3 separate regions of the Homo sapiens genome follow, and regions 2 and 3 are each reported to be linked to region 1. The links are microRNA targets in miRTarBase. Many come from high-throughput screens and were not tested one by one. Region 1 holds a microRNA gene; each other region holds the end of a gene's coding sequence.

Region 1 (3,260 bases):
GCAAAGCATTTTTGGATCAAGGTCCTGCCTGGGGACAGAGAAGTAAATAATACAAGTCCCTGTTCTTAAGTAAGGCACTAGACCAAGACGGTTTGAGCCTAACTAGAGGCTCTCTTGCATAGCAAAGTCTCTGGCACATGGGTTATATTCAAGAATTGTTTGAACCGAACTGAATCAAAGGAACCTACATTCTGCAAGTTAAGAGCACCTGTTTGGTGTCAGGAGCCCAAGACTTCTAGATTCAATCCTGGTTCTGACATGTACAATTCAGGGACTCTGGACCTCAGTTTGCCCATCTGTAAAGTGCACTTTGTCTACCCCACAAGTTGCTATGAGTAGCCAATGAAGTAGTGGCTCAGTAAATGGCACTCTGTAAATGGCATGAGATGGAACAGCAGGAGCTGATGGGAGCACGGGCGCACATGATCTTAAAAGTTTAGAGTCCAGCCTGAAGAAGACCTGAAATAAGCTCCTTTCTTTCTCCCCAGTCAGCTTAGATCTGCTTTTCAAACACAGCAGACATTCTCTGCATTTCTGGTGACTGTGAAAAGGGGAAGGGGATAATTTGCCACTAAGTAGGGGATAGAAAGAAAGGTTGCCATCTTTATACTTTTCAAAATAAGAGCACGGGATTTGGATTTATAATCCTAACTTTTGTTAATCAAAAGCTGTGAAACTATGAACAAGCCTCAACCTCTCTCAGTTTCCTCATCTGTACATTGTGGGGAAATTTCCTAAGTCATAAGATTGCAGTTAAGGTTCAATGAATTAATGATGTCAAAAGTGTTTTGAAATCCACAAAATGCCAAACAAACGCCAATCATTACAAAGTTGTCTGTCTTCTCATCAGTTTACCAGCTACATAGGACAGTGGTTATTTACCATTTGACAGGTGAGATCATCAAAGCCCAGAGAAAGTGCTTAAAGTAACACACAGCTCAATTCTGACTTCTTACAGCAGAGGTAACTGTTCCTTTACTACAGGGGTTCTTAATTAGCCTGCTTGCCTCATTAAACTGACAGATCTCTGAGGGAGGGGACTACATACATCTTACACATTTTTGTACCCCAGTGCCCATCATGGCACACCTAAAAGATGTGAAGTGTTACTAGAATGATGACTAACATATTGGTAGCAGAAACATATCTAGAACTCAGGACTCCTAATCCCAGATCCAGGGTTCTTTACAACCATACAGTGGCCCAAACCTCATAGACTCGGCTTGCCTTAACATCTCATCTCTTCCTCAATTCTCCACTCTAGCAAGATTCAACTTTCCCTTCAGAGCCTGGCTTTCATAGATGCCAAAGCCAGGCTCTGAAGGGAAAGCTGAATCTGGCTTTCATAGATGCCAGTTCCTCAGCCATAACCTTCCTCATCTCTCCTTGCTGAGCTAATTCCTATCCATCTCTCAGACTTGGAGGCCTTTCTAATCTCTCCTAATACTGGGTCAGGTATTTACTTTCCTCCATGGCTGTTTTGTTTATCACAGAGTCCTGGCACACAGAATGTGTTAAAAGTATCTGTTGAAGGCTGAATGAATGAAACACTGGGTGTAGAAATCCAAAGGTGATGCAGAGAAAATTTTTTTTTTTTTTTTTTGAGACGGAGTCTCGCTGTCTCCCAGGCTAGAGTGCAGTGGTGCGATCTCGGCTCACTGCAAGCTCTGCCTCCAGGGTTCACGCCATTCTCCTGCCTCAGCTTCCCGAGTAGCTGGGACTACAGGCGCCCGCCACCACGCCCGGCTAATTTTTTGTATTTTTAGTGGAGATGGAGTTTCACCGTGTTAGCCAGGATGGTCTTGATCTCCTGACCTCGTGATCCACCTGCCTCAGCCTCCCAAAGTGCTGGGATTACAGGCGTGAGCCACCACGCCCGGCCGCAGAGAAAATATTCTTGACCTGGAAGTCATGCAGCCTGACTGATTCTAATTCTAACTCCACTACTAATGCGTTTCGTGATCTTGAGCAAGTCCCAGTTCTTCTTTGGACCATCTATAAATGAGTTACACAGTATGATCTCAGAAGGTCCCTCCATTGTTAAAAGCATATGAGACTTAGACTCATGTGAAGTCCTAGGGATGAGGAGATTCCAAAGCCAGCTATATGCTCCATAGCATAGGAGACCCAACACTCTCATCCCCCCAGGAGCACGAGAGACACACGACTCTGCTGTCAGGAGCCTCCCAGCCCATTGGTTTACTTAATTCCTCTTGATGAAGTGCCAAGAATAAATCGTAGGTGAGCAGCAGAGCATTTTAACGAGTCCAGAGCCTAATGAATCTTTTCCTTCCTGTGTCAATTAGAATTTCAAAGCTAGGATCCCCAAGGACCAATTTATTGGGAACAGAGAGAAGAAGCCTTTTGTTCATCAGCAGCTGCCTGAGCTACCTGCTCTGCTCCTGTATCTCTGCTGTGTAACAATCCTGCTTACTCAGATATAACATCTGGCACAATAAAGCCTGGCCTGGAGGCTCCTTCTTGCCCAACATTTCTGGGGTCTGAACTTGAGGAAGGAAACAAGGGTCCAGGGTATTTCTGAGGGCAAAGGTGGGGTTGGGGGTTGGTCAGGGAATCAGAGCAGTGCTGACGTTGCTGCTATCTCCTAGGGATACTGGCCTTCAAAGAGCTAACAGCCACAGATCACCAGGCTACTCACCCAACTAAGTATCTGGTACTGTGTGGCACCTATTTACCTGTTATTTTAAATCCTCACAACCTCAAAAGCAGATATCAACCACATCATTTTAGAGAAAAGGAAAAAGAGGATCTGAGAGCTAAAGGATCAGCCTAAGGAACACAATTATTACAGTAAATGGCAGAGAAGGATTTGAACTCAGGTCTGTGCGACTCCGAAGACTAAAGCTCTATCAAACCAATACAACTCTGCCAGGAGCTGATGTCTTGAATGGCAGAGATGGCCCATGGTCAGCCATAGACACATTAGGCATTTGCCACCAACACACTGTCTTTTGCCCGGGCACATGCAAGAGTGGCTGCGCATCACCAGTCCTTCCATTCAATGGAGCTGGCAATCCTCCATCCCTAGAAGATAATCCAAGCAGAGTCACCATCAACACTGCCCCCTGCTCCTACCCCAGAAACCTTTTATTTGTGAGGAATTTCCAATTCTTGATCTAATGGCTCCCATGCACCCAGTTCTCCACCTCCCATACTGTCCGCTCTAAGTCACACAGGGCCAGCCCAGGTACTACTGCTCTGTATTCAACAAAGACACATTTTCCAAGGTCAGCAGATTA
Region 2 (3,260 bases), not on the chromosome of region 1:
GTTCTGCTCCTAGAATCACTTCCCACACAAACCCTCTACACCAGAACGTTGCCCCTGGCTCTTCCTTCACAGGACCCCAGGCCACAACAGGCTACTTTAGGCAGCATCATGGCCTACATCTTTGTGCTAAGAGTAATGGGAAGCCATTAGAGGGTTGGAAGCAGGTGCTCAATCAAACCTATGTTCTTAGGTGGGCATGGTGGCTCATGCCTGCAATTGCAGTCCATTGGAAGGCCAGGGTGAACAGATCACCTGAGCTCAGGAGTTTGAGACCAGCCTGGGCAAGATAGGGAAACCCTGTCTCTACAAAAAAAAAAAAAAATACAAAAATTAACGAGGCATTGGGGTACACACGGATGGTCCCAATTGCTCAGGGAGTCAAGGTGGAAGGATAGTTTGAGGCCGGGAGGTCCAAGATGTGGTGAGCCATGATTGTGCCACGGTTTGCCAGCCTTGCAACAGAGTGAGAGTATCTGAAAAAAAAAAAGAAACTATATTGTTAAAGCCCAACCTGGCCCAGTGTGGAGCATGGTCCAGGACATGGGAGGGACAGGGGCAGGGGCACAGAGAAGACCATTCTGGAAGTTCTTGCAGGAGTCTGGGCAAAACGTGAGGACAGACTGGATGGGAGTGTTTGCTGTCTGGATGTCTCTCTTTGTCCCTCTATTTTTCGCTGATCCTCTCCCAATCTGCACACAGGCCCCTCTGACACTAGTTAGCCTCGAGTGTCCCGTGTCAATCCCGGGCTCTGACTCACAGATGGAAACCACACCTGTGCTCAGCCAGAGCCAGACATGTACAAGCTTTCCCCGAGTGCCCCAATGGGCTTGGGGTTTTGAGGTCTCAGGGAAATGACCAGCTGGGAAAGTGAGAGTCCAGTGAGCGAGCAGAAGGGGTCTTGAAACTTCGCTCCCTGAGACCCTGGAAGAAGGATCATGAGGAAGGTTAAGTCAGGCACCCAGAGCCCAGGGGAGCCTCCATCGGCACCACAAAGTCACAGCCATCAGTCAGTGCTGATTGACTCAAGTCTCCAGAACACAAGATGGGGAGAGCAAGGTGGACCTGAGATATCACCTTTTCCAGCCCCCTTCTACAGCTGATGAGGAAACTGAGGCTCAGAGGGGTGAAGTCTCATGACCACAAGCAGGGTTGAACTCCTGGACACACCTCAAGCTTCCTTGACCTGTTCCTGGCATCTCCTTTCATTTTTCCTTTCTTCCCAAATTAACCTCTTTCCAACACAGCACTTCAAGTTCCCCTGGAACTTCATCGGTCCATCGGTGTCCCCTGGTCTGGAAGAGCACCGACCACTTGCCAAGGCCCCCACCACTCTGCTGCCATCACAACCACCATCACCACCATTACGAGAAAAACTTGAGACTGATGGCCCCCAAAGCTTAGAAGGAGCTGAGAGACCAAAGAATGACTCGAACAAGTCCAGCTTGGTGAGTAGGTGAGTTTATTGGGACTTACACACAGGTCAATCCTGGGCAGCGACAGGACAGCTCTAGAGATCTGTGCTTCCTCCCAATGCTAAACTGCTTTCATGCTAATCTTCTGACTGTTTACTTACCGGCTAAGAGCGATGGGACTGTTTTCATTGGTTGGTTCTCAGATACTCTCTGGGAAGTTTGGGTTCTCAGGGACACCTGCTCCTCAGCTGGGGATTGTGGCCATGGCCTACCACCTGCCTCTCAGGGTTCAAGCAGGGGACATGCACCCTTTAGTAACCTGGAGGGGACCCGTCACATGACAACCACCCCAACCACCATCATGAAGAAGCCACTGGCTGACTGTGATACACCCCCAGAAGGACAAGGGAGAGTGGATGCTGGAAAGACAGAGCGAGAGACCATCACCAGGGAAAGACTTTATTCTTGGAAGGACATCAAACCTGGGGGGGGGTCGGTAGTGGAGCTGCTGTTTCTTCTCCTGTATCCAACAGTTCTAACTCTGGTTTTCTCCATTTTCAGCTCTTTCTTTTCCTGGCCTTCTCATTGCTGGTTCCTGCAAGCTCCCCCTCTATTCTTCGCCCAATATATTCTTTAGTCCAAAGTAAACTACTTCTTCCCATTCCCCACACTCTCCAGTCCTCTCTCCTCCCTTATTGCAGGCTCCAGTGTTCCTGCCTTCTCCTTGGTGCACTTGCCATCTGCATTAACCCCTCCCTTGCTGTGCTCAGCTACACAAATGCCAAAGTCACTAACACTCAGTTCCATAAGCTTTACCTTGCCCTCCTTATCCCCCTAATAAAATGTCTGCATTTTGGCCAGGCGCGGTGGCTCACGCCTGTAATCCCAGCACTTTGGGAGGCCGAGGTGGGCAGATCACGAGGTCAGGAGATGGAGACCATCGTGGCTAACACAGTGAAACCCCGTCTCCAGTGAAAATACAAAAAAATTAGCCGGGCGTGGTGGCAGGTGCCTGTAGTCCCAGCTACTCGGGAGACTGAGGCCGGAGAATGGTGTGAACCCGGGAGGCGGAGTTTGCAGTGAGCCGAGATTGAGCCACTGCACTCCATCCTGGGCGATAGAGCGAGACTCCATCTCAAAAAAAAAAAAAAAAAAAAAAAAAAGTCTGCATTTTGTCCTGGCCTGTGCCCGGCATTTCTGCCCTGGTGGCTGCACTGCTCTGGGGTCATTGGTCTTGGCCTGGCTGCAGCATCTCATGGATCTTGGTGAGAAAGTTGAGCTTCCCCTCCAGCTCCTGAGCCCGCTTCTTCAGCTCCTCAGCTGACTCTGACTTTGCCCCCTCAAGCAAGTGCTTTGACTCATATGCAAGGCTGACCACATCCAGCAGAAGCAAGATGCCTCCAGTGGCTGCACCCACGATCATGGTTCCTCTGCTCATTGCCTGGGCGGGGCCTTCAACAACCCTCTCAACCTGTTCACCGCCTTCAGCTGAGATTCGCCCAATGACATGCGGGGGTGGGGCATACGCTCCTAACTGAGGGTTGGCTCTGGCTCGTCTGATGGCACGGATGTTCCTCCCAATCCCTTGTGTGACTTGGTACCAATTGTCAACTAAGGTAAGAACATTGGGTGTGTTCCCACCCACAAACTCCTTCATCACCTTTGCTACATTGGTGCCGCTTTGGTCCAAGTTGCGGGCTTGGGCTCGTGCCCGCAATTTGTTTACTAGTTCTACCACACTGCAGGTAATCCCAGCCACAGCAGCTGCTGCTCCCAGACCCATGCCAGTGTCCAAGAGCACAAAACTGATTCCTTCTGTGAAGGGTGCCAGACCCAGGCCGAGGAGGG
Region 3 (3,260 bases), not on the chromosome of region 1:
TGGCCTCATTTGATTTCTTAAGGTCATCATCAACCCTAATTTTCCGTTTGTTCTTAATATCTTTCAGATTTGGAGTCTCTCTACCTTTGGTCTTCTCCATACTTTTGTCAGTGAACATGCTCGGCAGTCCATTTTTAGAAATATTGGAACTGGAGTGATGCAAATTGAGACAGGGCCTGCAAATCACATTTTCTCCTGTGGAGCTGATGGAACAATGAAAATGAGAATACTGCCAGATCAGTTTAGCCCTTTAAATGAAGTGTTGAAAAATGATGTGAAATTTATGCTATAACATTTTTACAATAAGATGTACAATTTATTACCTATATGGAAGTGGCCAACAGATATAATATACAGTGATCATTCTCTATGCCACAAATTAGCTAATGCTTTCTTGTTTTTATATTTATTTTATGGAGCTTTGCCCTTGATGCACTGATGCCTTAAAAATTAACAAGGTCATTCAGAAGTAGATTACATTGCCTAAAGTAGAATGTGTAAGTAATGCTGTAATAATACATATCATAGTATATTATAATCAGTATGTCATAGTGTTAAAGGTGTTTTGTTTTCTTATTGATACTTTTCCACAGGCATCTCTGCATGAATTTCTTCCACAGTAAAAATACGTTTTTTGTAAAGGCAATTGTACATAATACTCATCACTTAATTCACCACACTCTCACTTCCTTTATTAGCCTTATACATCTCAAACTCTTCTCTTAATTAATGATAGGTATTTGAGTAAGAATGAAAAAAATAATGAACATCTTCATTAAAATTGTCATTGAGACGTCAGTGATAAATGAGCTAGATGGCTCAATATGTAAGGTTTTCAGTAGTTTACCCTCCGGAACCCAAGTTGTATGTATGTATACGTGTGTGTGTGTGTGTGTGTGTGTATCTTACACATCTTATTTGAACTTAGTTGTATATATTAGCGAAAACTGGTTTTTCATGTGTTTTTGTGCCATAACAACTATTGCCACCAGAATAACTTTTTTTTTGCAACTGTGCTTTTCATTTTTAAAAAATTTTTGAATTCCCATCCTAATTTTCAAATAAGTTTCAAGGAGACTATCAGGATTATTATTTTAAAGATTAGATTTAGTCAAATAAGTCTTAGCAGGCAATAAAGTTTCTGTGGTGGCATATATCATGTAAGACACTTAAAGTAAGTTTGTGAATTTGTCAACTTTCGAGCATCAAACAAATATTTTACTTAAATTTTATTTTATCTTATTTTTAGGTGCTTTTAATCTCAAAATTCTGAAAAGCGAATAGCAGTGTTTTCAGAAACAAATGTGAAAGCAGTCAAATTAAGTAGATACTATTTAGAAATGTAAAATACTCTCCAGATCTACCATTAATAGAAAATAAACTAAACCTTATATTTTATTTTTGCCAAAATATTTTATTATAAAATATGACCAAAATATTTAAAATGCACAATGCTTTTAACTTAAATGTGCTAACCCTGTTTCTGTCTGTTTTGTGCTGTACCTTTTCTGATTCAGAATTATAGAAAACTTGATAAATACTTGATTTTAACCAATGAGACTACAGGCAGATGGGACTAAGTGTTTATGGGACAATTATGTACTATTTAACTTAAATATATTTTGTTTAATAGGAAATATATAATAATAGCATTTTATGTAATAAAATATGGGCAACGATTATCTTGGAAATTAAAGAGTCAAAGCAAAGAAATGAAGGGCTGGTAAAATGAATTTTGTAATATCCTCAGGATACTTTTATCTTAAAAGTATGTTGTTAAAGATTTTGTAAATTGTATTTCAACAATTTTAAATGTGTTGAGCAAGTTGCAGTGCAAACACTGTCATTATGTAGAGAGTTTATATGCACATAATAACCTGTACCTATAAATCGTGCAATAACCATATGCGACTATTTTGCCATGGAGAAATCTGACAGCATTGCAAACAATAGTATTGTTTGATGTAGTTAACCTTAAGTTATTTTTCAGTAATTTCTTCACAAATCAAGATTCAAACAGCTTTAAACACTTCCAATGAGATAAAATATTTACTATTATGCTTATTAGAACAAAAGGTGTTTAAGGATGAACTAAATATTTTAATTGAGCATTTATATGGATAATCATACATTATGTAAGCCCATATGTATTTACATCCAGAGTCATAATATTTTAAATAAACAATCATGCAGAAACTTTTTTAGGGGGTATACTATTGTTTTAATATCGTTGCCAATTTAGCTGACTTAAAATATGTGACATTTTAAAATCAAGAATTTCCATATTTGTATTTGGTTAATGTAAGGAGGATGGAATAACTTTCCCGAATACCCTGTTCTTTTCTACCGTCTTTTTAAGTTGATAGGTAAGCAGCATTCAAGGAAGGTGGGAATAAAAATTGTTGAAATGTTTAAATATAAAATGATATACATATATGTAAAATTTCATTATCCACATTAATGGAGTGGATACATCAAAATACATTTTTTAATTGTGTGTTTCCTAAGAATGTGGCTTTGTGATCATATAAGGATTCACAACATTAACAAATCTTATTTTCTGATATCTAGGATTTTTCTTAACTAAAACCATGGACCAGTCATCTCCATCCTCCTTTCTTGCTCTTTGCCCTTGCCCTCCCTTCTTTGAAAAAAAAAATATTTTTTAGAAGAATTGCAGAAATTTCTCACATTGGTCCCAACAATGGAAACACAATACAAAGACACATTCAAAGAAAAGTCTATACAACCTTAGGGTGGAAGTGATCTTTTTAACAAGATTGGAAACACAGACATATTTTACTTAATAAAAAATTTAAATGTCATATGGCAGGGACCACAGTCAAAGTTAAAACAACAAGTAGACTAGAAGAAATATTTGTATAGTAATAGGAAACATGTCAGTGTCCCTGTATACAAAGAGAAGTTTAAGTTATTGGAGAAGTGGTCACACTGTGAATAAGCAATTCACAGAACAGGACATTGAAAAAGTCAACAAATATAAAGTGTGTTCATCTTCATTATAAGGGTTAATGGATTGTTTTTTAAAAAGTATTACTGTAATACTAGTTTTTATCAGATTGGTTTAAGGTTAAATAGTGACAATATCCATTTTGGTGAAGATGCAAGGAAATTGGCAGAAACATTGCTGGCAAAGTTATCTGGGTGTGAATTAAAATCAAATACACATAACTTTCAGTGAACAACCTTCTGAGAAATTATAAAAATAAAAGCTTCCATGCATAAAAATGTAAGGACAC

Evidence for each region. Region 1 holds the annotated microRNA hsa-miR-4755-3p (AGCCAGGCUCUGAAGGGAAAGU, at 1,274-1,295, opposite strand). A microRNA usually pairs through its seed, bases 2 to 8, with sites in the 3' UTR of a target mRNA and lowers its output. Matches are read on the target gene's strand: a 7mer-m8 pairs with bases 2 to 8, a 7mer-A1 pairs with bases 2 to 7 and ends in A, and an 8mer does both.
Region 2: the mRNA of APOL2 is a reported target of hsa-miR-4755-3p. Seed matches in the 3' UTR shown: 7mer-m8 at 2,269-2,275.
Region 3: the mRNA of DMXL1 is a reported target of hsa-miR-4755-3p. The part of its 3' UTR that is shown has no 7-base or 8-base seed match.

What each region holds. Positions count from the first base shown.
Region 1 is chr20:34,047,197-34,050,456 of GRCh38, reverse strand. MIR4755 (microRNA 4755) reads right to left here and starts at 1,338; the gene lies at 1,267-1,338. All of the region lies in intron 2 of RALY (RALY heterogeneous nuclear ribonucleoprotein), which reads right to left.
Region 2 is chr22:36,224,767-36,228,026 of GRCh38, forward strand. It overlaps APOL2 (apolipoprotein L2), which reads right to left. Exons shown (of 5, transcript NM_030882.4): 5 at 1,443-3,260. The coding sequence ends at 2,638. Among named protein-coding and RNA genes, the nearest start is that of APOL2, 13 kb to the right of the region's middle. RefSeq lists an enhancer at 2,397-3,075.
Region 3 is chr5:119,246,928-119,250,187 of GRCh38, forward strand. It overlaps DMXL1 (Dmx like 1), which reads left to right. Exons shown (of 44, transcript NM_001290321.3): 44 at 68-2,200. The coding sequence ends at 292. Among named protein-coding and RNA genes, the nearest start is that of MIR5706, 94 kb to the left of the region's middle.